Linked DNA regions of Homo sapiens. The protein of the gene in region 1 purifies or fractionates together with the protein of each later gene. This does not show direct contact. Each region holds a gene or a part of one and is shown on either strand. Other genes may lie near its edges.

What was found.
Region 2: the proteins of TMPRSS11A (region 1) and PSG3 purify together in Homo sapiens (affinity purification with mass spectrometry; 3 studies listed by BioGRID and IntAct, with this or other methods). This does not show direct contact.
Region 3: the proteins of TMPRSS11A (region 1) and ACADL purify together in Homo sapiens (affinity purification with mass spectrometry; 3 studies listed by BioGRID and IntAct, with this or other methods). This does not show direct contact.
Region 4: the proteins of TMPRSS11A (region 1) and RSPRY1 purify together in Homo sapiens (affinity purification with mass spectrometry; 3 studies listed by BioGRID and IntAct, with this or other methods). This does not show direct contact.

What each region holds. Positions count from the first base shown.
Region 1 is NC_000004.12:67,918,486-67,925,522, reverse strand, and holds part of TMPRSS11A (transmembrane protease serine 11A), read left to right. Parts: intron 1-1,356; coding exon 1,357-1,395; intron 1,396-2,596; coding exon 2,597-2,768; intron 2,769-6,290; coding exon 6,291-6,550; intron 6,551-7,037. UniProt on the Homo sapiens protein: Probable serine protease which may play a role in cellular senescence. Overexpression inhibits cell growth and induce G1 cell cycle arrest.
Region 2 is NC_000019.10:42,737,473-42,744,806, reverse strand, and holds the start of PSG3 (pregnancy-specific beta-1-glycoprotein 3 precursor), read left to right. Parts: upstream 1-4,325; 5' UTR 4,326-4,356; coding exon of another isoform or gene 4,357-4,422; coding exon 4,423-4,486; intron 4,487-5,717; coding exon 5,718-6,083; intron 6,084-7,334.
Region 3 is NC_000002.12:210,201,441-210,208,477, forward strand, and holds part of ACADL (long-chain specific acyl-CoA dehydrogenase, mitochondrial precursor), read right to left. Parts: intron 4,357-7,037; coding exon 4,192-4,356; intron 3,243-4,191; coding exon 3,141-3,242; intron 2,005-3,140; coding exon 1,891-2,004; intron 1-1,890. UniProt on the Homo sapiens protein: Long-chain specific acyl-CoA dehydrogenase is one of the acyl-CoA dehydrogenases that catalyze the first step of mitochondrial fatty acid beta-oxidation, an aerobic process breaking down fatty acids into acetyl-CoA and allowing the production of energy from fats.
Region 4 is NC_000016.10:57,210,329-57,217,328, forward strand, and holds part of RSPRY1 (RING finger and SPRY domain-containing protein 1 isoform 1 precursor), read left to right. Parts: intron 1-2,643; coding exon 2,644-2,770; intron 2,771-3,559; coding exon 3,560-3,618; intron 3,619-5,778; coding exon 5,779-5,845; intron 5,846-6,575; coding exon 6,576-6,707; intron 6,708-7,000.

The DNA.
Region 1 (7,037 bases):
TCACTAGTTTCCCCAGTGGAATTTGTAGAAAGTTAGTAGAATGAAACAATCTTATTTTGTATAATGAGGAATAGAATACTGAGAATGTGTCTGAGAAACATGGCACTGGTAGGAAAAAGTAAACAGTTTATTCTCATCTGCTCAATAAGCTAAGTCATTTTAACTTGAAAATCATCAAAATTTTCATGAAACCTTCCACCAACTTTATTTTTCCCCAGCTTTAGTAAGATATAATTGACAAATAAAAATTGTATACTGTATACAACATGATGCTTTGATACATGTATACAAGTTTAAATATTTGTGTTTCCTTAGTCAAACTCCTCACTTTTTTGGAAGTTGACAGAATTTAATCTTGGATTGTGTCCAATAACTAGCTTTTACCACTATTCAGTATATTTTGGATAAGAAACACATAACAGTTTATTCTTTAAAAAAGCAATTTTACTATTTAGGAACTGTGTTTAAAAAGCATTTTAAATATCATTTATGCAAGAGTTTTCAAGGTTTTTTCATTCTAAACCCTTTAACCAAAAAAAAAAAAAAAAAGATTTATGTGAAATTCGAAGTAAATAGAAGAGATCAAAGCAGATCTGTTCTGGCTGAGGCTGAGTTTGAGACCTGTAAGACAGTCTACTTGCCATATGGCTTGGCTGTGTCCCCACCCAAATCTCATCTCGAATTGTAGCCCCCATAATTCCCACATGTTGTGAGAGGGACCTGGTGGGAGATAAATTAAATCATGGGTGCAGTTTCCCCCATACTGTTCTATGGTAGTGAATGAGATCTGATGGTTTTATAAGAGGCTTCCCCTTTCACTTGGCTCACATTCTCTGACTTGCTTGCCACCATGTAAGACATGCCTTTTGCCTTCCTCCATGATTGTGAGGCCTCCCCAGCCACATGGAACTCTGAGTCCATTAAACCTCTTTTTCTTTATAAATTACCCAGTCTCAGATATGTCTTTATCAGCAGTGTGAAAACAAACTAATATAACCTGTTTCCTCTGTCCCATTTATCCATCTTCTGAAGTGGAATGCAAAGAAGCTTTACCCCGAACTGCTGGAAAACCATAGTTCTCTATTAATACAAACTATTTGTGGGCTTTAGTCATCCACTATTTGTGCCTTACTCACCCATTGCTTGTGATAGTATCCACCTAATTAGAGGCTGCCTATAAGTCTCTACAAAAACTGTACACAGATGTTGTTATATCAGATAGCCATTCTCCTAATTAATCTATATGTTCAACTGTCTAGAATCCATATATGGTCAGTATCCTCTGATTATTCCTGGTCATTGAGACCAACCAGGAAAATATCAAATTATCACTATTTGTTTTATCTTCTTTTTCAGCAATGAGCTCATCAACAGGGGAGTTAACTGTCCAAGCAAGTAAGTCAAGTTAGCTTATATAAACAAGTTCAATTTTCACATCAGAAAGGACATTTTCAAATATTTGCTCATACTTGCCCATCTGTCCTCCAGATTTTCTTTGAGAGATAATAACTATTTGTACGATAGATTTAAATACATTTTTTTTCTAACTCATGGACTGATCTTTTAGTCATGTTCAAGAAAAAAATTGCCATGGTAACCTTCTGGGGCAATTTGAAGAAAGCATTTATTTTTGATTGGGAATATTGGACTTGTTTTTCTAATTTTTAAAAATGCCATAAAATGTACTTTCTGCTACAAAATAAAATAATAAGAAAGTAATCAATAGGAAGGACATAAAACCCATTGTCTGTGACTGACAATTTGTCTGTGAAATATGCTAAGGTCAGGAGTTCGAGACCAGCCTGACCAACATGGAGAAGAAAACCCATCTCTATTAAAAATACAAAAATTAGCCAGGTGCGGTGGCAGGTGCCTGTAGTCCCAGCTACTTGGGAGGCTGAGGCAGGAGAATCACTTGAACCTGGGAGGCAGAGGTTGCAGTGAGCCAAGATTGCACCACTGCACTCCAGCCTCAGCGACAGAGTGAGACTCCATCTCAAAAAAGAAGAAAAAAATATGCTTAATAGATTCATCTTAATCGCTAACAGTGGCTTCATTAAATCACTTCAAATCACTGTGGCCTAAATTTTGAAAGATTTTACAAAAAACAGTGATGAATTTGAGCAATGATGTTCATGCATTTGCCTCTGTGACTTGCAAACACCCTAAGTATTTTTATCCATGTGTTTATTCATTCAACAATATCTTTTAACATCTACCAAGTGCCAGAAATTAGACCAGGAGTTGGTGGTACCATTGTGAATAAAACATGATCCCTGCTCTAAAATTAGAATTCCAAAGTAGAGAAAGATATAAATAAATCAGGAAGTATGAAAATAATGTGATTAATGCTATGACAGAGGAAGTGCATAGTGCTATGAGAGTTGATCAGAGAGTCAGCTAACCTGTTCTCACACAGTAAGAAAGTGAACCCTGAAATGTGAGAGAGAAGAGGCCATGAATCCAGTGACAGGTGGGGTAAGTGTCCTGGGCAGGAGGAGTAGTATACGAAAATGTCTTCAGGCAAGTAAGAATGGGGTCATTTCCTGTAATTACAAGATGTTTCTTATAACTTAATGATCTCATCTTTTTTCAGGTTGTGGTAAACGAGTTGTTCCATTAAACGTCAACAGAATAGCATCTGGAGTCATTGCACCCAAGGCGGCCTGGCCTTGGCAAGCTTCCCTTCAGTATGATAACATCCATCAGTGTGGGGCCACCTTGATTAGTAACACATGGCTTGTCACTGCAGCACACTGCTTCCAGAAGTAAGTTATTGACCTTAAGTTAGAACCCACTTCTGCTAAAAAGCCCTGAGTTTTGTCATATTCTTGGTAACAATTAATGTCTCAAATATTACTGAAGTAAAATAAGAAAAAGTTATTTCAGGTTCTTTTCTAAAATAATGTTACACTTGCATACTTAATCAGAAATTTGATGGGAATAAGTAACAGTCATTATCCTAGTATCCATCAATCATTTCCTCAAAGTTTTTAATAAGGAAACTGTGTAAAGAAATCAGAACTATTTTGTGACATCCTAACACAAAATATTCACTAATAACATGTACCATTAATCTTTTGTCAAACAATGCTCTCCACTTAAAACTAGTGTCTGTTTCTGCCAAACACTTGGGCCAGTCTCATACTGATCTTAAATAATCAAACTAATTCCAAAGTAAAATGGAAATTTTCAATAAATGCCGGAAGTTGGTAACCGTGATGATGGAGAACTGCAGATCAAATTTAGAGCATTGACATATGAAGATCTGTGGAATCAGAACAGTTTACAACCAAAATGAGAGATTGCTAGCATGATAAAGACAGGCACTTCAAAAGAGATTCCTCGGAGTATCAAAGGATTCATAGAGGCCCTTGGGCCACTCAATGTGACCTTCCCATAATAGAGCATCTCTTCACAATAGTGACACAAAAGACAAAGCTGAAGTGAAGAATAGCAAATTGTGCTATCCTATAATTGTTTCTGAATGCATACATTTTATTAAATATATGATTAAATGACTTTTTATAACTTTTAATCTTACTTTTCAAGATAATAACCAGTCATTTTTATCACTATTACATTTAGAATTTTAGATTTGTTTCTAAGTAGATTAACTGTATCGCCTTTCTTCTTCATTGCCAATTATTACAGTAATAACAAAGACTTCTTGAGTATCTCTATATAATAGGTGGCAGCAGGATTTAGTGGGAAAAATATGTCCCAGGCAGTTGGAGAGCTGGGCAAATTATTGAACCTTAGTGTATTAGGTAATAGATAGGCTAGATCTTTTCACATTCTTTTTGACCTATAAAATTCTAACTTTTGTTACTATAATAAATTTCATTTGCCTAGGAGCATAAATCTTTATAGAGACTCTTAATATTCCAAAGAATATACATATTAAGAATCTAGGCTTGGCATGGTGGCTCATGCCTGTAATCCCAGCATTTTGGGAGGCCGAGGCAAGAGGACCACTTGAGCTCAGGAGTTCAAGACCAGCTTGGGCAAGATAGTGAAACCCCATTGGGCATGGTGGTGCCTACCTATCATCCCAGCTACTTGGGAGGCTAACGCAGGAGGATCCCTTAAGCCCAGGAGTTTGAGGCTCCTGCAAGCTATGATTGCACCACTGCACTCCAGCCTGAGTGACAATGCAAGACCCCATCTTAAAAAAATAGTAATATATTTTTAAAAATAATCTACATAAATTCTTAATGTTTGAAAGATGTGAGAGCTCAGTAAGCTGATATATTAGAAAGCCAGAAATCCCTTATGCTGGTGTCTGGTTTTTCAAAGTAATGGGAAACTTACTTTGCCAAAGTTAGCCATTTTTGTGGTAGATAGTTCTATTTTTGCAAATATCTTTATAGCATTGAACACCAAATCTATACTCTATTAACTTCTACCATCAATATTTGTTTTTCTTTTAATCTGGAACAACAGGAACCAATTTTATTTCTTCATTCATATAACAGCTATTCTTTAGTTTCTCTTTTTCAGACCAAACATAAAATGAGGGAGAATATCCAAACCATAAGTGAAAATAAATATCATTACTGTGAGCTTTAGTTTGCTAAGGATAATGACCTCCAGCCCTATCCATGTCCCTGCAAAGGGCATGATTTTGTTCTTTTTATGGCTGCATAGCATTCCATGGTGTATGTATACCACATTTTCTTTATCCAGTCTATCACTAATGGGCATTTAGGTTGATTCTATGTCTTTGCTATACCGAAGAGTGCTAGAGGGAGAGGATCAGGAAAAATAACTAATGGGTACTAGGCTTAATACCTGGGTGATGAAATAATATGTACAACAAAACCCCATGACACAAGTTTACCTGTGTAACAAACCTGCACATGTAACCCTGAACTTTGAAAAAAGTATATATATGCACACACATATATATGCATACATATATATGTGTGTATATATATGCATATATGTGTGTGTGTATATATAAAAAAAAATATATATATATATATATATATAATTACCTCATTTTTCCAGAACCAACTTCCAGATGCCCTACCACATTGGTTCTTATTCTCTGAACATTCGAGACTTTGTCAGTGTCTTCCTTAAAATATGCTTCCAATAACTAAATACACCAAGACAGATGTGTGACTAGTGTCACACATAACAAAATAAAGCAGGAAGTCTTCTGAAAAATACAAATAATGTAAATTGGTGGGAGACAGTGTTTTATAAAGGGAAGAGCAGAGAGAGGCAGGCAGATATGTGATGTGAATCAAATAGTTTAACCTATCCAGGCTTTATTTTCCTTAAGTATAAAACACAGTCTTTACTAGATGATCTTTCATTGCTACTAAATGATTTTTCCGATTCCTGTATGTACCATAATCCACCCATTGCCCAAGCCCACAAGCTAGAAGTCAACCGCATTTACCACATTTGATCATCTCTCAAAGGACTATGCAGTCATCTAATAGACTTTACCACATCCATTCTTGACCTTCAAGAATCTACTCCCCAGAAAGAACCAACATGTTTTTTAAAAATGTAAATGAGACTACATTATTCTCTGGCTTAATTATCCAGTAGATTCCCATATCACTTCAATAAAATTTAAGCACTTTATCATGACCTATAAAACACTCTAAAATCTAGTCCCTGCTTACCTCTCCAAGCTCACCCCCAACCATTCTTTCCCTTGTGTTCTGACTGCAGCCCATCCAACCCAAGACCTTGGGATTTTTGCCTGGAAACTTGTTTCCCTCATCTCCTCACACTGACCCTCTTTTACTATGTCTTAGCCCAAATGCGTTATCAAAATAATCATAATGACCTGTTAGTACTCTATTCCGTTACCCTATTTTATTTTGTTCATAGCCTTTATCAATGTTTAAGATTATTTATCTATTTGTTTGCTTGCTTTGATCCTTTTCCTTCTCTGGAATCTTATACTCCTGTGAGCAGGCACCTTAGGTCCTGTTCATCACTTTATCCCCAGCAGTTCAGATAAGGCTCAGCACACAGATGCTCAGTAAATATTTGTGGAAGGGATAAATGAATGATATTTTATGTGTATTACAGTTCTAAAATTCAATAGTTTTGTATTAAATATCAGTTCTAATATGGCATTTATATGATTTTATCTTTCAAAACATTAGCAATAGATTATATTTAAATGATAAAAGAAAACTATAACTGCAGCCAAGTATTCTCAGGATTGTATTTCTCTTATATTAGCCTAAATGCAATTAATCTAGCTCATATACTTTGGGCAGCTTATATATATTCTGTTAATTTCTAACCTTTTCCAGGTATAAAAATCCACATCAATGGACTGTTAGTTTTGGAACAAAAATCAACCCTCCCTTAATGAAAAGAAATGTCAGAAGATTTATTATCCATGAGAAGTACCGCTCTGCAGCAAGAGAGTACGACATTGCTGTTGTGCAGGTCTCTTCCAGAGTCACCTTTTCGGATGACATACGCCAGATTTGTTTGCCAGAAGCCTCTGCATCCTTCCAACCAAATTTGACTGTCCACATCACAGGATTTGGAGCACTTTACTATGGTGGTGGGTATCTCAGGATAGCTAACAGAGCGCTAAGCCCTGTCTAAGGCAATGTGATTTCATCTCCATCAATATTATCCTGACAGCCATTTCCACACAGTCTGGTTGGATTAGTTAGGGTTCTTACTTTGTGTGACAGAAATTCAATTCACATTAACCAGTGCAGAATAAAAAACAAAGAAACAAAAACTTCCACAAATTTGGCTCATGTAATTTGGAAGTCAAAAAAGTGTAGTAAGTTTCACTTCAGACACAGGGGTTTATATGATGTCATCTGGCTCTGTGTCTCTGAATTTGAATTTTTTGCCCCTTCTTTTCTCTATATTGTCTTCATTCAGAGGGATGCTAGCTTCACCTAGTGTCAGAGGTGGCTAACAACACCTCAACACATCATCCTCAACAAAGAAAAAATACATAGAAAGGAATATTTATTTCTTTTCTTTGCCAGAATTCACATTAATTTCTATTGTTCCAGCTGTGTCTAGGAGGA
Region 2 (7,334 bases), on another chromosome or scaffold:
AAAAAACAAACAACCCCATCAAAAAGTGGGTGAAGGACATGAACAGAAACTTCTCAACAGAAGACATTTATGCAGCCAAAAAACACATGAAAAAATGCTCACCATCACTGGCCATCAGAGAAATGCAAATCAAAACCACAATGAGATACCATCTCACACCACTTAGAATGGCAATCATTAAAAAGGCAGGAAACAACAGGTGCTGGAGAGGATGTGGAGAAATAGGAAGACTTTTACACTGCTGGTGGGACTGTAAACTAGTTCAACCATTGTGGAAGTCAATGTGGCGATTCTGGAACTAGAAATACCATTTGACCCAGCCATCCTATTACTGGGTATATACCCAAAGGACTATAAATCACGCTGCTATAAAGACACATACACACGTATGTATATTGCAGCACTATTCACAATAGCAAAGACTTGGAACCAACCAAAATGTCAAACAATGATAGACTGGATTAAGAAAATGTGGCACATATACACCATGGAATACTATGCAGCCATAAAAAATGATGAGTTCATGTCCTTTGTAGGGACATGGATGAAATTGGAAATCATCATTCTCATAAACTATCGCAAGAACAAAAAACCAAACACCGCATATTCTCACTCACAAGTGGGAATTGAACAATGAGAACACATGGACACAGGAAGGGGAACATCACACTCTGGGGACTGTTGTGTGGTGGGGGGAGGGGGGAGGGATAGCTTTAGGAGATATACCTAATGCTAAATGACGAGTTAATGGGTGCAGCACAACAGCATGGCACATGCATACATATGTAACAAACCTGCACATTGTGCACATGTACCCTAAAACTTAAAGTATAATAATAAAAAAAAGCTAATCATAGAATTCTCATTTGAAACAACATCTATTCCTAGGTATATACCCAAAGAATTAAATCCAGGGACTCAAACAGGTACTTGCATGGGAATGTTCATTGCAGCATTATTCACAAAAGATAAAATATGAAAACAATCCAAGTGTTCATCAACACATGAATAAACAAATATGGTGACACATACAACAGAATGATAATCTGCCATAAAGAGGAAGGAAGCTCTGACACCCGCTGGAACATGCATGGACTTTGGAAACATTATGCTAAGTGAAATATGTCAGAAACAAAATAACATAATTGTATAATTCCATTTATATGAAGCATCAAGAATAGGCAAATTCATAGAGACAGAGTAGAGAAGATCAAGGTCTAAGGTGGAACATACAGGGAGTTATTGTTTAAAAGATACAAAGTTTCAGTTTAAAATGATAAAAATTTTCTAGGAAAAATACTGGTGATGGTAATTTAACACTGTGTAAGTGGTTAATTTCACTTGATTATGCATTTTAAAGTGGTTAAAATAGCACATTATTCACAGAACTGTGAAAAATAGATTTCTATTATTTAATTCACCCAGGCTAAGGTGTCTGTTATGGCAGCTGAAGCCCATGAATACATCATCTGACCCAGTGTTTCAATGAAAGGCATCAGATTTTCAATCAAGTTAGCTGGAAGCTCCTGTCCCCAGCAGAACCAGACGCCCCAAAACAAGAGCTCCAGCAGGGGCTCAACCAGCACAGGTCCCATAAGGCAGCCTCAATATCAGACCCTGGATGGCATGTGAGGCCACAGTGATACAACCACAACGTGAAAGTGTAAGTATTTTTACTACTTACAGACACTGGGGAGCACTTGGCACACCTGGAGACCACAGACACAGAGGTCAGTGAGCCCATGGAGAGAGGAGAGAAGAGACCGGTAAGCCAATGGCTTTATTAAGTCCAGGGTGTTATCTGACAGGTTTCCAGCAGGGAGCTTTAATGGATGTGTTCAAAGCAAGCAGCAAACACTGGGACCAGGGGCTCACGCTGTGACTGAGAGGTGGTCACTTTAAATGTGAGGGCAAATGTCAGAATTATCAGTTTAAAGAAAGCAGCTGGAGAGAGGGAAACCCAGCACACCAAGCAGGAGAGATGCCTCTAAGATTTTATCTCTGCACACCAACTGGAGCCACCTGAACCAGATACAGTATTGAAACTGCATTGGTGACCAAGCCCTGCCTCTGATTTGAGGCAAATAAACTTACACCATAAAAGATGAATGACAAGGCAACATGACACTATGAGCATCATGACATCCAGGGACACCAGCAGGGTGTGGTACTGTGCCCTGGAGTCAGAATCCTGGGTTCTGGTCCCTGGGAGTGAGAAAATGAAAATGACTTGTCCTTGCCCCCCTGACATTGATCTTCCCACCCTGCTGCTCCCTCTTCTTCTCCCAAGCCCATGTGCACTGCTCAGCCCCAGACATCACTGCCCCCAGGGTATACACAGTGCTGCCTACTGCACACAAACACAAACTCACAGAAGGTGACAAAAATCTGCATTTGGGACATCTGATTGTGAAAGAGGGAGAACAGTGAACATAGAGCCACACAGACTGGGACTCACGGGGCTGGAAGGTGAAGGAGCTATAACATAACATATGTGTGACCTCGTGTGAAGTGTGCAGATCCATGTGGAATAAAACATGCAGCCTGGCCTGGGATTGCTGCCGTTCACATTTCCCTCCCTGTCCACCAGAGGGGGACAGAGTCCCTCCCAGCCTGGAGCCTTCCCAGGGGATGCCAACCGCCCTCAACGGAACCCACAGCCCAGCAGGGTCCACCCTCACCAGGGTCACTTCGGCCCAAGTCCTCAGCGCCCTCCATGCTCCCCACACGGACTCTGTCAGCTCCTCCCTGACCTGGGGGCCGCCAACCTAACACCACTCCCCCTGCAGGGAGCTCCTCCCCACACACCTGCTCCTTCCCTGGGCCCAGCTAAAGGCATCTCCCAGGGCAGTGCTGGTGCACGCGACACTACACTGGGTGCTTTCCCCTCGTGGCCTCCCTCCATCCTCATCAACTCGTTCTGTCACTGCTCCCTAAATGCCTGCCCCTGCTCCATCTGTCCTGTTCTCTGGGGCATCCCAGGCCAAGCCTAGCACTGACACAGAACAGTGGCTGCCTGAGGGCCCACAGCCTCCCCGGGAATCAGCCAGGCACCCTGTGTCCTGCCTGCTCCCTGCACCCCGGGGGGCTCAGAGCACGTGTGATGCTCACACACAGGCACCATCCGGGATGTGGCCACCTACCCCCAGCTGTCCCTTGGGAAGACAGACCTCTCCTGTGTGCTTGCTGGGAGAAGGGGGATGTTATTGCTCTTTGCTCCCAGAACACAACTCACCCCCACACGCCCACTCAGGTGTGAGCAACGTCCCTCCAGACAGGCTCTCTGGCCACTACCTGTTCCTCCTCTACACACAGCAGCTTGGCCAGGTCAAAAACCTCAGGACAGACCCCTGGGTATGTCGGCACATGGATGGCTGAGCCCATCATGGCCACAGAGTAAGTTGGGATGAATCTCTCCAGCTCTGAACCCCTGCTCTGTCCCAGGCTCCCCCTCCTGCATCTCAATGAGCCATGTCCCCCGGGGTTCCTGGGTAACTCCCCACTTCCTCCTGCACCACCACGGGGAAGGTGTGGTGACCACAGGACAATAAGCTGGGCAGAGAAGAGAGGACATCAAAGATGGTCAGGAAGAACATGAGAAACCATGAGCTCCAGCTCAGCCGCCAGACCCCAGGGAGCCATAGAGTGACCGAGAACTGTCCCTTTGACTATGGGACTCACAGCCCCCCACTGAGCAACCAGCACAGGCCTCTCCTCACAAGAGGCATGAGAGATTCATCCTGCACACCTCCAGGAAGGACAGTTTCCTCTGGGACACCCAGGTCCTGAATGTCCATCCTTGGAAGCTGCAGCCAAGCTAGACACGATTAGAAAAAGGAAGGTTCCCTCTCATCAGGCAACACACAGCTCACCCACAGCACAATGGGGTGTCACTGTGACAGGGACCTGGTTCAGCTCCAGCCTCCTGCACTGAAGGGGAGAGCCAGATGGGGATGAAAGAGGCCAAAGGGCATGAATGTGCACCCCGACCCAGAGCCATGGGGACAGCAGGAGGCTGAGGCCCAGGACTCTGCTTGCCCAACCTGCAGGGTATGTTTCTGACTGTGTGGGTCTGTGTGTGTCTCTTCTGTGTGTGTCTGTGTGTGTGTGTGTCTGCACAAAGTGTGTGATGAGGCTTGGTGAAAGAATCACTGCTGAAAAAGGCAGAGGCCTCCACAATTCCCAGGGACCTGAAACACAGACAAAAGGAAAAACAGGAGGGACAAGGAGGCAGGACTGAGAGAGGAGGGGACAGAGAGGTGTCCTGGGCCTGACCCCGCCCATGAACCTGAGAAGTGCTCCTGCCCCGGGAAGAGGCTCAGCGCAGAAGGAGGAAGGACAGCACAGCTGAGAGCCATGCTCAGGAAGTTTCTGGATCCTAGGCTCAGCTCCACAGAGGAGAACACGCAGGCAGCAGAGACCATGGGGCCCCTCTCAGCCCCTCCCTGCACACAGCGCATCACCTGGAAGGGGCTCCTGCTCACAGGTGAGGAGAGAACTTCCTGGGAGAGGACAGGAGGAGGAAGCAGAGTGACTGGATGGGGTCTCCTGGAGAGACTCCTGGGGTTCTAAAAAATAAAAGAAGCCAGCACTTAGGGAGGCTGAGGAGGGTGGATCACGAGATCAGGAGTTCAAGATCAGTCTGGCCAACACAGTGAAGCCCTGTCTCTACTAAAAATACAAAAATTTAACCAGATATTGTGGTGTGCTCCAGTAATCCTAGCTACCCGGGAGGCTGAGGCAGGAGAATCACGTGAACCCGGGAGGAAGAAATTGCAGTGAGCCGAGATAGTGCCACTGCACGCCAGCCTGGGCGACAGTACAAGACTCCGTCTCAAAAAAAAAAAAGAATGGAAAGAAAAAAGAAAAAAAGGAAAGAAGTCTCTGTTGGAGCCTGGATAGGGGAAAATACACCCAAGAGGGACAGGGGTCAAAACAGGAAAGTCACAGGAACCAGAATTGGTAAGAGGTAGGAAAATCTTAAGTGTTCTGTTTTCCTGATTAATCATCAGGGGCCACCACATTTTGAAAAATGATAATAATAACTATATCAGATGACACTTCAAATAAAAATATAAGCAGGGCATGAAACACTGTCCTCAGCAAAAAAACCTCAACAACTGGGGGAAGAAAAAACACCCAGGGCATGGAGGGCCCTGAGAACTCTCACATCTACAGGAGTCTGCAGCCTGTTCCAGGCACTGGGGTGCAAAGAAGATCACAAAAGTCCCTGTCCTCACGGAGCTCACGCTGTCATGGGGGGGAAGACAGACATGCAAAGAGTTCTAGAATGTGAGGTCAGGTGTTGAGAAGAACCCTGGAGGGAGCAGAGCAGGGAAAGGTCAGAAAGGGAAGACCCAGGGTCTCTGAAGGAGGCGTCAGGAAAGAAGTCTAAGGATGCCCTGATGTGAGCAGGACCTGAGGGCAGTGTGGAGGGGGCCGTGCGGACCCCTGGGGAAGAGGATTCCAAACAGAAAAATGCCAAGGTCAGAAGTGTTGAAGGAATGGGGGTCATGTTGCTGACCTTCACCTAGTAGGAGAGTAGGACACAAACACATATACACATGCCCCTTTTGTGTGTGTGTGTGTGTTTGTATGTGTGTGTGTGTGTCTCTTCAAAGCTGAGGATTGAAGAGACCTTCTCAGGACCCAGGGCCACATCTTTTCACCCCAATGCATAGGTCTCAATATTGACTGATGCTCTCTCCACCTCCTAGCATTACTTTTAAACTTCTGGAACTTGCCTACCACTGCCCAAGTCACGATTGAAGCCGAGCCAACCAAAGTTTCCAAGGGGAAGGACGTTCTTCTACTTGTCCACAATTTGCCCCAGAATCTTGCTGGCTACATCTGGTACAAAGGGCAAATGAAGGACCTCTACCATTACATTACATCATACGTAGTAGATGGTCAAATAATTATATATGGGCCTGCATACAGTGGACGAGAAACAGTATATTCCAATGCATCCCTGCTGATCCAGAATGTCACCCGGGAGGACGCAGGATCCTACACCTTACACATCGTAAAGCGAGGTGATGGGACTAGAGGAGAAACTGGACATTTCACCTTCACCTTATACCGTGAGTGACTCCACGTGATCACTGGGTGTTGGGGGATGGGGTCTTTACTTCACACACAAAGGATTGTCAGGCCTGGATTGTGCCTGTGTCCCTCTCTGCATTATGTCCCATGCTGGGGTTTGGGCATTTAGTGCAGGACACACACAGAAGAGACAAATTTCAACAGATCAGAATTCCTTTCCCGCATCCAGACCCTGCAGACACTCGCTGCAGAGGAAGGACAGTCTGATGGGGGGACTCAGCAGGAGGAGATCAGTCTCAGCCAAGCACCTCATGCTCTCTTCATAAATTTGACCCTGAGAAAGACCCTGGCAAACTGAGTAGGGCTTGGCCTCAGGGGCCCCATGAAATACTCTCAGAGAAGCTCAGCCCTAGAAGCCTCACCCCCAGAACCATGTCCCTAAATCCTTGCTCCAGATAAATCTGAGGAGCCTGTACTGGGGCTGGGTTGTCGCTTCTTGGGCAGGGCTTACTGGGACCAAGGATTTACCAGCTGTCAGAGGACTGTGTCTCCTGGAGCTGTTCACCAGCCAGGGCTCAGCCCTCAGAGCCTCATCTGGGCAAGGACAGAGCTTTCTTCACCTGACACTCAGAGTGGAGAGGACAGAAAGACAAGCTTTGTAGGCCATCAGACAACTGCCTTAGGAGGCTTAGGCCAGTCCATAGAAAGTCTAATGTCCCCAGAAGCAGAAACAGAGGAGAGAAGATATACCAGGTAGCAGCTTGTCCACAGGCATCTGACATAAAGGTGCTTTCTCATGGAAGCAAATTAATAATAAATGCTGTTTGTGTGAAACCTCCACTGTGCCAAGAATTAGGTCACGTGACTGTGAATCATTTAACATTTATTCACAGATAGCATGAAAAGCCACAGTCCATTTGCCATTTAGCTTATTTGTTTGAGAGAAAACTGAGGCACAGGAAGCCACAGTCACTGAACCAGAGTCACACAAACACAAAGGGGAGATCAGGGTCACATGAGGTGTGTCTGGAGCCAAAGGCCCACCCTCTCCTCCACCAGAAGTGAGGGCTTACTGGGTTCCAATCACCCTATAGTCATTTATTGGCTCAAATCCTCTCTTCTTAGGCATCCAAACCTCAGAGGAGTGAGAGCAAACGGTCAACTGATTAGTCTGTATTCCAGAACTAAATCACCTACCTCAACCGTCAGAGTCAGTGGAAAAAACATGTCCAGGCCTCCCCCTCAGATCTTAACCACCATCACTGAACCTGAAATCCTGTGTTTCCCAA
Region 3 (7,037 bases), on another chromosome or scaffold:
ATTTATAGTCAAAATTTTACAATTTTGCAAATCAAATACATTTTATATATTTACAAATAGGAAACTATTTTTGAGAGAGAGAACACGACTAGACTACGGAGATTCAAGTAGCTGTGTTAGGACATAAACCACACTTGAACATAATTTCTAGAATGCTGGTTCTGAAAAGCCACCAAGTTGTTTCATTTCTACCTTTCCCTTCACAAAGCCTTTCAGCCAGTCATTCTACTTAAAAATTTTTAAGTCAAATCCCAACTCCAGGTTTTTTGCTGGTGAGATGTTTTGCCAATTTGATGACCACATGAAGGAATTATAAACTATTCCTTCATTTAAAAAGAAACTATAGGGTCTAAAATTTAATTAGCATATTTAGTGACTGCGGCCACTATATACTGAGTTCTTTTGCAAAAACCCTCAAGTTCCTGGGAAAACTCAATCCTAGGTAAACACAATCATCTGTCTTTTCTCTATGTTTGTACCTGGGAAGCTAAACTCTTATCATAAAGCTGATTGATACACAAAAAGCAGAAAGTAGTTTAGTTTCTCATTCTGAAGAAGATATTTCATACCTCCCTCACCCTTCTGCAACACCTCCATGCCTCCTTCACTCACCTGTCTTTCAAGGACTTTCTCTATTGTTATTTATTTATTTATTTGTTTATTTTTGAGATGGAGTCTTGTTCTGTAGCCCAGGCTGGATGGAGTGCAGTGGTGCGATCTTGGCTCACTGCAACCTCTACCTCCTGGGTTCAAGTGATTCTCCTGCCTCAGCCTCCCGAGTAGCTGGGATTAGAGGTGTGCACCACCATGCCTGGCTAATTTTTGTATTTTTAGTAGAGACAGGGTTTCACCATGTTGGCCACGCTAGTCTCGAACTCCTGACCTCAAGTGATCTGCCTGCCTCAACTTCCCAAAGTGCTGAGATTACAGGCGTGAGTCAGTGTGCCTGGCCACGTTATTTAAAGAAATAGAAGTCTTCTATAAAGAACTTTTGTAGTTTTCTACCAACAGAGTGATGTATCTGTCTGAACTCATAGATGTCCTTTGCTCCTTTCTTCCTGTGCAAATGAAGGAATCCCTCTCCTGTTGATGGGAAGGCCTATCTTTCCATGTGTCAGCATCCACAAACTCACCCTTTCTCAAAGACCTTACGCAGTTGATTATTTCCTTCCTATCTACAACCTTTCCCTCTTTATTAAATCCTTTCTTTATATACAGGTATTAAAATATGCACCCGCATTCCCATCCTAAAAATAACGACAAAAAATTAATAACTCCCAAATATCTCCCTTGAATCTCAAATCTCCTTCCCCTCCCCTCTTCGCTTACCACCCTTTCTCTCAACTACCATTCACAGCCAAACTCAGGAAAGAGTTGCCTACCATCAGTATTGTTTTACGTCCTCATTTCTATCTACTCATCGGGTGTGTCACCCTCCACCTCCATTAATGGCTCTTACTAAATAATCTCCATATCATTGTATTCAATGAACACTCTTTGCCCTTCGTCTTATTTTTCCCCTAAGCAGCAATTGATCCCACTCCCTACTCCATGAAGCCCTCTTTCCTTCCAGCTTCTGTGACAAAGCTCTCCTGATTTGCTTTCTCCTTTCTGTTTATTCATTCTCAGTCATCTTACAGGCTCCTCCTTTTCAGACAATATGAATTCCAAATATGAATTCTACCTTTAAATCTTGTAGTCTTCCTCAAGGACTGTGTCCTAAGACCACTCCTGTCTTACTCTCTACTATCTCTCCTTAGTGATCTCATCCACTTCCATGGTTTCTAATATCACCTTACATGAAAATAACTCCAAACTTCTATTTACCCCAGGCCATTTCAGATTAGTAAACTGATACCATCTAATACTAAACCACAGTGACAAGCTTACCTGTAGGTGAGCAACTGTTTTGCCAAAAGCTTTTCTTTGTTTAACATAGTTCCTGGTTTCTTCAAACATGAATTCACTAGCTGAAATTGCCACATCAGCAATTAACAGCCTTTCCTATAACACAAAAATTAGGTCTTAAACATTACTCTAATTATGCAAGTGATTTTCACACAATTTCAATTACGATAAATCCTATAAATTATCTTTATAATAAACTCATAAAGATTAATTTATATCTTAACTCCTTATAAGAAAACAGATTTATGAGATTCTTTTGACATATCTCTAATCACTTTCTAAAGCAAATCCTTTATTTTTATGAATGACTACCTTTATTTTTTTATAATCTTTTTAAATTTTTAAGAGACAAAGTCTCACTCTGTTGCCAAAAATGGAGTACAGTTGCACAATCATAGTTCATTACATCCTGGAATTCCAGGGCTCAAGTGATCCTCCCACCTCAGCCTTCCGAGTAGCTGGGACAACAGTCACATAACACCATGCCCATGAATGACTGTCTTCATTATATATATGCAATTTAATTTTTCTTCTCTTTACTCACATGTGAGTTAAAAACAATCCCCAGTTGCTTATTTCAATTTATTAATCTCTGCACACTGTATGACTCAATATATCTGTGGAAATAAACATCTTAAAGCACATAAGTTAAATTCTACCTATTAATGTAAAAGTAGCCTTAGTCAGTTTGATTCCATCATGCTGGTGTTTTTCATGGCAGTCACTAGGCAGGAGTACCCCCTTACACTGGCATCTGAGGCTCAATAATCACTTGTCAACCATACTTTAAAACCATAGCTGTTTAGGGACTGACCCTATGTGGCTAAAACTTTTCAGTCTGAATTTTATACTTTTCCCTTTGATTCACAGTTATTATTTAAAAACTGGCAAACTATCAAATGTTTTGCAAGACATTTCCTTACAAAGAGCTAAAAGTTTTTGAATTGTAGTTAAGAAGCTAAAATCATTCTAAGAAGGAATCACAGAACTGAAATATCTGTTTTTCCTACTTACTTTATAAGCTTTGATTGGATATTACTGAGTTCAGTTATTTACTTAACTACCCTATAAAACTCATACTTTTATTACAACTTTAATACTCAAATGATTAGCTATTTCACAAGTTTTGCATGTATAAATTTGAATGCATAATATAGAAATAACATGTTTCTATATTATTCTATTCCAATTCATTATTCAGTCAAAAGATGGAATCTTTAAACACTTCTGACCTGTGGAAGCTCTTTCATGATGTAATAGAAGCCTTTATTCTCTTCTCCAAGTAGGGCACTAGCTGGCAACCGTATATCTTCAAAGAATAGTTCTGCGGTATCCTAAGAGACCATACAAAAAATGTAGAGAATGGTCTCATTTAAATCTTCCAATAACCCAGTGAATATTGAAGTGAATATTATTTTTTCCAAAAAAACAAAACACAAATTGGAAGCCAAGTTGGAGTAGTTAATGAACATAACTAGTAAGTGGTAAACCAGGGATTTGAACCCACAGCCATCTGATTCTAAACCTTGTGGCTTTCCTACTGCAATACACTATCATTCCAGCTCTAATACTGTCCAGTTCTCAAGGTACTTGGAACTAAGGATTTCTAATACATATTAAGCAAAACATGCATTTTTGGTAATGTATAGAAAGAACATTTTCTGGGTTTTTTTTGTTTGTTTGTTTTATTTTTTTTGAGACAGAGTCTCATTCTGTTGCCCAGGCTGGAGTGCAGTGGCGTGATCTTGGCTCACTGCAACCTCTGCCTCCTGGGTTCAAGTGATTCTCCTGCCTCAGCCTCCCGAGTAGCTGAGACTACAGGTGCCTGCCACCACACCCAGCTAATTTTTTATTATTAGTAGAGATGGGGTTTCACCATATTGACCAGGCTGGTCTTGAACTCCTGACCTCAGGTGATCCGCTGGCCTCAGCCTCCCAAAGTGCTGGGATTACAGGTGTGAGCCACTGTGCCTGGCCACACTTTATTTTTATTTCATATTTTTCTTTAATGCATTTTACAAATAGATGGCTTGTTACCATGCAGTTAATTTTGCCATTTCTAAAACAGATATTCAAAATACCTTGATTCATTTCTATTGCTGACCATCAGAAAGATAGAGTGGTATAAATGAGAATAAATCTCATTACCACATCAGAAAAGCATATTTTAGGAATTCAGCATAGGAAATAAAATTGTGCCACATGTAATCCTCTATGTAAGTCTCCTATCTGATTAACAGTAAACTCAATTAGTATCTGAATATGATTTACATTATCACTCACCTGGGCTTTTAATCCCATTTTATGTAGCTTTCGTCCCTTGATAAATCCTTTCATTCCATTTTCCACCAGAAAAAGGCTAATACCATGGGCAGGGGAGGGAGCTTCATGATTTGTGACCGCAACTACAATCACAACATCACTTAATGACCCATTACTGATGAACACCTGCAAAACCCCAAGTACATTATTAATGCACCATGATAATTCAATTCTATGTGCAAGTTATGATTGGGAGAAAGTATATTACAGAAAACTAAAACAGACAAGACATGCTTGATACCTCTCTCTGTACCCTACCCAAATATCTGCAAAGTTGATTATTCACACATGATGTTATCAAGGATCAGGGGAAAAATTACTTAATGCTTCAAAGAATGAAACCTATAGATTTTCTTTTCACTATTAATATTATACATAATAATAATAAACAGAGATTATTATGTTCTTTAAAAATGAAACCAAATTGTCTATTATGATGATAAATTGTATTTTAGAAGGAAGCCACTGATAAGAAAAGAAAATCTGGCCGGGCCCGGTGGCTCACACCTGTAACCCCAGCACTTTGGGAGGCCGAGGCAAGAGGATCATTTGAGCTCAGGAGTTCAAGACCAGCCTTGCCAAAATAGTAGAGACAAAAAAATTAAAAATTAGCTGATGTGGTAGTGTGCACCTATATATAGTCCAAGCTACTCAGGAAGCTGAGGCAGGAGGATCGCTTGAGTCCAGGAGTTTGAGGTTACAGTGAGTTATGATTGTACCACTGCACCCCAACCTGGGTGACAGAGTGAGACCCTGTCTCTAGAAAAAAAGAAAAGAAAATAAAAGAAAAATAAAAAGAAAGAAAATCTGCTGTAAATGGCACTATATTATTTATTCTCAGATTTATCAGTTTTTGAAAAGGACTATTTTTGATTTTTGTAATTGATATCCTGCTTCCTTTAAAATGGTCTAAATAGGAAACTATGATTAAGGAGGGAAAAATGACAAGCCAAATGAGAGGGATTATCAGATGATATTGATACAGAAAACAGTATACTCAGAGCAAATATTAATAATTATCTTCTCATTCTGCATCTTTCCTGGTTCATCTCAATCATTTTCACGGCTTGAGTCACCCTCTACATGCTGATGTCTCCAAATCTTTATTTAAGCCATGTTTCTTTTCTTTTTTTTAGAGACAGGGTCTCTCTCACCCAGGCTGGAGTGCAGTGGTGTGACCATAGCTCTTTGCAGCCTCAAACTCCTGGTAAGCCACATTTCTTGATAGGACCTGGACCTGAATAAGTACTTGCTTCTGGATAGTTCCACCTGATGACTCATGGGCAGGACATATTCCTTCCCACCCCTACTCCTATCCAATCCTGATTATCAACCTATTTCCCTATCTCAATGAATGCTTCAATAAATTACATTATCATCCTGCTTCATATTCAATTCAGCATCTAGTTTTTTCTAACCCATCTTAATACTTTTGGAATTTATTCACTTCCTTTCAAGTCTATTGTAATTACCTTATTTCCAGCCCTCATCATTTCTTAAGTTCCTACAACTGATCTCTCTACAGCTGTATCATTCATCATGATGTCAAAGAGATTTTTCTAAATGCAATCTGATCATATCACCTTCACACTTAAAAATTTTTGAATAGCTCCTAATAGGCTTCAGGATAAATTCAAAACCTTTAGCAGGAAATAGAAAACTTATCACAAACTGGCACTAGCTTACCTCTCCTTACCTGGCTTATTGCTTGTCCCACTTTCCCCAATTTCCTCTTCTTCAGTCAGCTCTACTAAACTACTTGCTGTCCATCACGTTGCGAGGTCTTCCTGACCTATGAGTCTTTGAAAATCTTGTTTCTGCTACTTGGGAAAGGCCCTTTCCCAACTCTGCTGCAATGAATTGTACTCATCCTGGGTGGTTTAGACATCAGATTGGCCAAAAGGTCTCAAATTCTCCAGGCTGGGTTAAGCGGTCCTACAACACCTCAAATTTACCAAAATGATCTGTTTTTATCTCTCTCTCTTTGAAATAGTAGGGGTATAAAATGATGTTGGTTACTCCCATCACCTAAAATGCACAGCACTGATACATACAAATAATGAAAAATGGGCAAATAATGTTAGTGTTGTCTACACAACAGCAAATGAATATAGTGGTGGCAGTATGGTTATAGGTGACACAATAATAAAAGATCATCAACGTGCCTCCTTACTAGGAGCTCATAGCCATTTCCTATTCATATATCTATCTTAAGTGCTTAGAATTCTTTTTGGCACAGAGGAGGCCAAAGGATGTTTTAAAAATATATTTTGAAAAAGATGTTCCTCAAAAAAATTCTATACAACTTGGCAAAAATATTTTTTCAACAGTATTGCTCCATTACACGACTCCCTTGCTCAAAAACCTTATAAGTCTACCAAGCTCCTACCTTTCTGTCTAGTTCCTAATGTCTGTATAGCTGCCACAGTTGAAATGCTATGAGTGCTTTTTTGTTTGTTTTGCATCACACAGCATCCAGGAATTAGTATCTACAGTATGCTCTCAAATGGTCTCATACATGTTTTAACTACAGATAATAAATAAACAATGGAATAGAAAGGAAGGGAGGAGAAATTCATTGGGCAAAAACTATTCATTTTAATATGCTGAGCTCAATTTGGTAAATCAAGTGGAGTTCTCCAGAAGTTCTTATTGGAAGTAATTATAGCAAAGGATTAATAAAATCTGAACCATTTCTACAACAGTGCGACCTAAAGTGAGTTTAAACACCATGGTGGATCCCCCTTTCTAATAGAGTTATATGAGAATTTTCCTTGCAAGTGGACTTTCTCAGTTTGTTTCCTAAT
Region 4 (7,000 bases), on another chromosome or scaffold:
CTTGGCTTCTCAAAGTGTTGGGATTATACGTGTAAGCCACTGTGCCCAGCCTAGGTTAAAATTTTTTAAATGTTAAAAATAGAAGCATTTAAGGCTGGGCGCGGTGGTTCACGCCTGTAATCCTAGCACTTTGGGAGGCTGAGGTGGGTGGATCACCTGAGGTCAGGAGTTCGAGACCAGCCTGAACAGCATGGTGAAACCCCGTCTCTACTAAAATACCCCGTCTCTACTAAAAATCAGCCGGGAGTGGTGGCAGGCACCTGTAATCCCAGTACTCAGGAGGCTGAGGCACGAGAATTGTTTGAACCTGGGAGGCAATGGTTGCAGTGAGCTGAGATTGTGCTACTGCACTCCAGCCTGGGCGACAAAGCGAAACTCTGTCTCAAAAAAAAAAAAAGAAGCATTTAGGTTGGGCGCAGTGGCTCACACTTGTAATCTCAACACTTTGGGAGGCCAAAGCAGGCAGATTGTTTGAGTCCAGGAGTTCAAGACCAGCCTGGCAACATGGTGAAACCCTGTTTCTACAAAAAAATCCAAAAGTTAACAGGGTAACGTGGTGCATGCCTATAGTCCCAGCTGCTCAGGAGGCTGAGGTGGGAGGATCACTTGCAATCTGGAGGTCGAGATTGCAGTGAGACAAGATGGCGTTATTGCACTCCAGCCTGGTTAAAAAAAGAAGTATTTGTATCTCAGGTGGCGATCTTTATTCAGAAGCTAGAAGAGAATGTTGAGTTGCTTCGCTGATTTTCTTATCTTTCTCTAAGCAATTTCCTCATAACAAAAGTTTTAAGAATGTTTTTTATTAAGAGGAAAAACTGGGCTGAATGTACTGGCTCATGCCTGTGATCCCTGCACTTTGGGAGACCAAGGCAGGAGGATCAGTTAAGCTCAGGAGTTTGATACCAGCCTGAACAACATAGTGAGACCTTGTCTCTGTTAAAAAAAAAAAAAAAAAAGAAAGCCAGGCACGGTGGCTCATGCCTGTAATCCCAACACTTTGGGAGGCCAAGGCAGACAGATCACTTGAGGTCAGGAGTTCAAGACCAGCCTGGCCAACATGGTGAAACCTCATCTCTACTAAAAATACAAAAATTAGCCAGCACGATGGCGTGCACCTGTAATCCCAGCTACTTAGGAGGCTGAGGCAGGAGAATCACTTGAACTCGGAAGGTGGAGGCTGCAGTGAGCTGAGATTGCACCACTGCACTTCAGCCTGGGCGACAGAGTGAGACTCCATCTCAACAACAACAACAAAAAAAAGTTAAAACTGAAAGCACTTTTGAATCTTACTCAAATGTATTAATGATTAGTGTAACATTGGTTATCCTTTACATAGAACAAAAGCATCGAACTTTCATTGCTTTCCCATGTGTTTTACAGAGTCCTTTTTTTTTTTCTTTTTTTCTTCTTTTGGATTCTGGCATCTTTCATTTTTAAGATGGAGTCTTGCTATGTTGCCCAGACTGGTCTCAAACTCCTGGGCTCAAGCATCCTCCCACCTTGGCCTCCCAAAGTGCTGGGATTACAGGCATGAGCCACTGTGCCCAGCCTCAATTCTGGCATTTTCATTCATCTGTTTAAGCCCAGTGCAGAAAAACATTGTGGACGGAAGGGGAAAGTCTTTAGCGTAGTCACCAATGAATTGACCTTTGCCTAGGCTTATAAGAGCTGCCTGTTTCAATTTGCCTTCAACTCTGTTGGGGCAGGGTGCAGTGGTTCATGCCTATAATCCCAAAACTTTTGGGGGCTGAAGCAGGAGGATCACTTAAGGCCAGGAGTTCAAGACCAGCCTGGGCAACATAATGAGATTCCCATCTCTACAGAAAATTAAAATTATCTGGGCACTGTGACATGTGCCGGTAGTCCCAGCTACGAGGGAGGCTGAAGTGGGAGGATCACTTGAGCCCAGGAGGTAAAGGCTACAGTGAGCCATGATCACTTCACTGCACAGCAGCCTGGGAAACAGAGCAAGAGCAAAAAGAAAAGAAGAAAACTCTGCTGGGATTTGTTTTTGCTTAGTAAAACTTTTTTTAAAGTAACTTTTTACTTCAACATCACCAGCCTTTAATGTTTTCATAATGGCATCTGAGTGGGTTTAATCTGTTTAGTGATTCAAGAATATGTAGCATATATTTGATACAACTTAAGCATTCTGAATGAAGTGGAATCTAGTAAGTCATGTAAGGAGACTTTCAGGTTGATCAGATATTTCCCATCAATGATATCATTAGGGTACATTGCATAATTTTTATATGGTCATTCTGAGTTTATTTAACACCTGGTTATAGCTCCCCCCACCCCCCTGAGACGGAGCCTTGCTCTGTCGTCCAGGCTGGAGTGCAGTGGCACGATCTCGGCTCACTGCAACCTCTACCTCCCAGGTTCAAGTGATTCTCCTGCCTAAGCCTCCTGAGTAGCTGGGATTACAGGCGCGCACCACCACACCTGGCTAATTTTTGTATTCTTAGTAGAGATGGGGTTTCACCATGTTGGCCAGGCTGGTGTCGAACTCTTGACCTTGTGGTCCGCCCGCCTCGGCCTCCCAAAGTGCTGGTTATAGCTTTTGTCTCAAAAAAAAAATGAGCCTGGGAAAACAACCTGTGTAGTATATGGGTCAAACCCACTTGTACTTTTTTGTTTTAGGATGCACTCCAGAAATTGACTGAAATTCTCAATTTAAATGGAGAAGTAGCTTGCCAGGACTCAAGCCATCCTGCCAAACACAGGAACACATCTGCAGTCCTAGGCTGCTTGGCCGAGAAACTAGCAGGTAACTTTGGGACACTCCACAGTGGAAGATCTTAAGTTGTTTGACATTAAAGGGAAATTTGTACTGTATGTCTTTGATCAAACTGCTATACCAGAAAGAAATCTCTTAAAAATGATATTGAGAGACATAGACTAACTGGAAGAAAATTACTGAAAGGCTACAGAGGTGAATGCAATTTAATTTAGCTTTGTGGATTTTCAGGGGAAATTTTAAAAGAAAAAAGTTGTGCTTATTTGCTTTAAGAATAAGGAGCGAGGAAAAGAAAAAAGGGAGAAAAGCTAAATTCAGCATAACAAAGATATGTATGTGTGTATACAATATATAATTTGCATATATACACACTTTATAAAGTTTAGCTCGATTATGAAGACATACAAGGTAGAGGGAGAGGAAAAGGAACTTCTGGTTGGAGCAGTTCCTGAGAAGCAGGTATTTAATTTGTTTATGAATGTTACCCATTTTAAGAAAGTTAACAGCAAAGTACAGGGGCATAGCTCAGCTACTTACATCACGTAATGTGGAAGAAACAATGGATTAGAAATCAGAACATGTGGCTACTGGTTTGGACTCTCCCATGTGCTTGCCAAGTGCCCTGGAGTTAGTTGCTTAATTCTGTGGGCTCACTTGCTTAACTGTGAAATGGAGCTAGTACTATTTTCTACCTCAGAGCAGGAGGCTTTAATAAGATAATGTGCATGAAAGAGTTCTACCAAAACAATTTGATTGTTACCAGTGATTTAAAATAATCTGGCATTTTAATTATATCAAGTGTTTGTTGTATTTGTCTAGGTCCTGCAAGTATAGGTTTACTTAGCCCAGGAATACTGGAATACTTGCTACAGTGTCTGGTAAGTGAGACATCAAAACTATTTATTCTTAGTCATCTAGAAGTGGGCATCATCTAGAACTGTGCATTTTCTCAAATTGCTGGCATAGCCACTGGCACAGAGAATGGAATCAATTGTAAATTTTATTTGCAGGTGTTTCCCGAGTGCTTATTTATTCCCTCCTATGTTTAAAAAAGAGAGTGGGATTGGAATTTATCCCAACCAGCAAAAACAGCTGAGTTAGTCTGGTTTTAAATTTAGTCATAAGATAGCTGCTATGATTGGCTCTTTTGCATGTTCCTTGAGTTTGCCAAATGGTAATAGGGACCTCCACAGTAGAAACAATTACATGGCGTTCCAAGCCAGGAGGCCATCAAGTCAGATTCCCAGTATATATAAATCTCTACTCCTCCCTGCCCTCCCCCTCACTGCTACTCTTAAAACTGTTGTCACTGGAATATTTAATATATTGTCTATGAAGCTTCTGGTTTGCTGAGGCTGTGCCCTCAGATCTCTCATAGTTCTGGCCTGTGGTCTTGAATGGTCTGTATTTTTAAAAGTTATTTTTGTAGGCCTAGTGAGCATTGGCCCTTTTCAAAACTCTGGTCTGAAAACCCTTATTTGTCAATACCCACTGATACGTGCTTAAAACACTTACCTTACTCTCAATGAGCACTCTGGGGATACAACATGGCAGTCCTATGATTTCAAGAGGTTTATTGGTTAGTTGAGGAAACAAAACTACTCAGACAAGGTAATTAGCCTCCATTTTATCACAGGATGTGATCATGGGAGAAAGTACTTCATCAAGACTAAATGAGGGCCGGGCACGGTGGCTCATGCCTATAAGCCCGGCATTTTGGGAGGCTGAGGTGGGCTGGTCACCTGAGGTCAGGAGTTCAAGACCAGCCTGGCCAACATGGCGAAACCTGGTCCCTACTAAAAATACAAAAATTAGCTGGGCATGGTGGCATGTGTGTGTAGTCCCAGCTACTCAGGAGGCTGAGGCAGGAATTCACTTGAACCCAGAAGGCAGAGATTACAGTTAGCTGAGATCTCACCACTGCCCTCCAGCCTGGGCGACAGAGCGAGACTCCATCTCAAAAAAAAAAAAAGACTAAATGAGAAGGTGGGTGGTATGGGTAATGAGAGCCGGGGTGTCATGAAAGTCAGACTTCCTGATGAAGGTGGACCCTCAGCTGGGTCATGCTATAGATGAGGATTTTATTGTGCCCAGAGGAGGGAAAAAATTGGTTTCTTAGCTAAGGGAACATCACAGGCAGAAGTCCAGAGACAGAGAATTGTCTGATGAGAGAAGACAGTGTTCAGAGATAGGACACAGACTGAGTAGCCAGCTAGAAAGGGTTTAGGGCCTGAAAAGCCAGGCAGAGGGATTTAGATGGATATGAGAAGAAATAGAATGCTGAATAGGCTTTCCAGCAGCAGGGATGGTGGTTATGTGAGGTTTCCAGAACTTAGGAGGTACCAGGGAAGTCAGTGGGAATCATCTGATGTTCTGGAGCTCCTCTGGTGGCTCCCAATGTAGCAGTAGGGAAAGCACAGCTATGAGAAGGTGTCATGTTCAACAGATAGACCTTTCCTTAAAGGGGAACTCATGTGACATGAGCTTAAATGTAACTAAAAGAGTTCACTTGTTGCTTTCTCCTGTCTACCATCAGCATTTGTAGAATTCCTTTCAGGGAACAGCTTAAAAACTGAGCCATTAATTGTTAATTTAATTATTTATAATTTTGCAACTTGTTAGTGATAAGTGGTTCTTTTTAGGATTCTAAGTAAAATATCATTTTTAGTTTATAATTCTAGGTTTCTGTTTGGCTTGCATAAATGAATGTGAGAATGAATATTTTATTTAACAAAGCCCTAATGTAAGTTTTATTAAGTAAAATAACATAGTGTATTTAACAGGATACTTTTGAAATTTCCAAATCTATAAATTAACCTAGTGACTTTAAGAAAAAAATACAAGATTAAGAGAGCCTGTCCAGTTCATTACTAACATTATTAGCCAAATGGATAATTGAGAACTTGAATGAATGAAACTTTTCTGACCACTCGAAAAAACATCTAGCACATATTGGGCAAGGAAATGAAACTGATAACTTGCCACCTCTGCAGGGGAATGATTTTTTTTTTTTTTTTTTATCTTTTGTTGTTTTTCAGAAGTTACAGTCCCACCCCACAGTCATGCTTTTTGCACTTATCGCACTGGAAAAGTTTGCACAGACAAGTAGGTATAGTGACTTCTTGCACTAATGATCTTCTGTATTGGTTGTTAAAAATTTTATTTTTCTTAGTTACTGGATAAGCCTACACTTTGAACCCCATCAGATGGGCATACATTCTGTTTTCATCTGGATAGACACGTTAAAGCCAATGAAGTATAACAGGGACAAAGGCAAGGATTTTCTCACCTAAGAATCAAAACTTGGTAACCATGTTTACTCACTTTTTATAGCCAAAAATTTAGTGATGTGATTGCTAGTTTCTAGAAAAAAGTATGGTGGCTCTTGCCCATAATCCCAGCACTTTGGGAAGCTAAGGCCAGAGCATTGCTTCAGGCCAGGAATTCGAGACCAGGGTGGGCAGCATAGCAAGACTCAATCTCTACAAAAAATTTTAAAAAATCAGCCAGGCATGGTGGCATGCACCTATGTTCCTAGCTACTTGGGATGCTGAGGCGGGGGGATCACTTGAGCCCAGTAGTTCAAGGTTACAGTGATCCATAGTTGTGCCACTGCACTCCAGCCTAGGCAACAGAGTGAGACCCTGTGACTAAAAAAAAGGAAAACAAAATAGTCAAAGCTCTTTGGCTATGTTTTCCCTAGAAATTTTAATTGAAGTCTAATCTAGTCTCCAATTCTTTAATTGCCTCTTCCCCCTCCTTAGCAATACTAATTTGCTGAGCAAATCATTCTACCCTTTCATTGTTAATTCAAGGATTATGTCTTTCCAAACAGGTGAAAATAAATTGACTATTTCTGAATCCAGTATTAGTGACCGGCTTGTCACATTGGAGTCCTGGGCTAATGATCCTGATTATCTGAAACGTCAAGTTGGTTTCTGTGCCCAGTGGAGCTTAGACAATCTCTGTAAGTGGGAGTTGTCCTTTATTAAAATGTCCGTTTCCATTTCCAGACTCATTTCTTTCATAGGCTCACTGGTCTTCCTTTTGCAATGGTAAGTATGAGTCCTCATAAGGACCTCTACTGGCAGGTTGGATATATTCTAGCAGAAAAGTATCCTAGAGACCCTTTAGACAAGAATTACATGGTATGCTTCTAATTTCAGCATTTTCCTGTTCAAAAACCTTTACTGGCACCCAGTTTCCTGCTGCATCAAAGCCCTTAATTATATGGCACTGTCTAACCAGCTCTTTCCAACA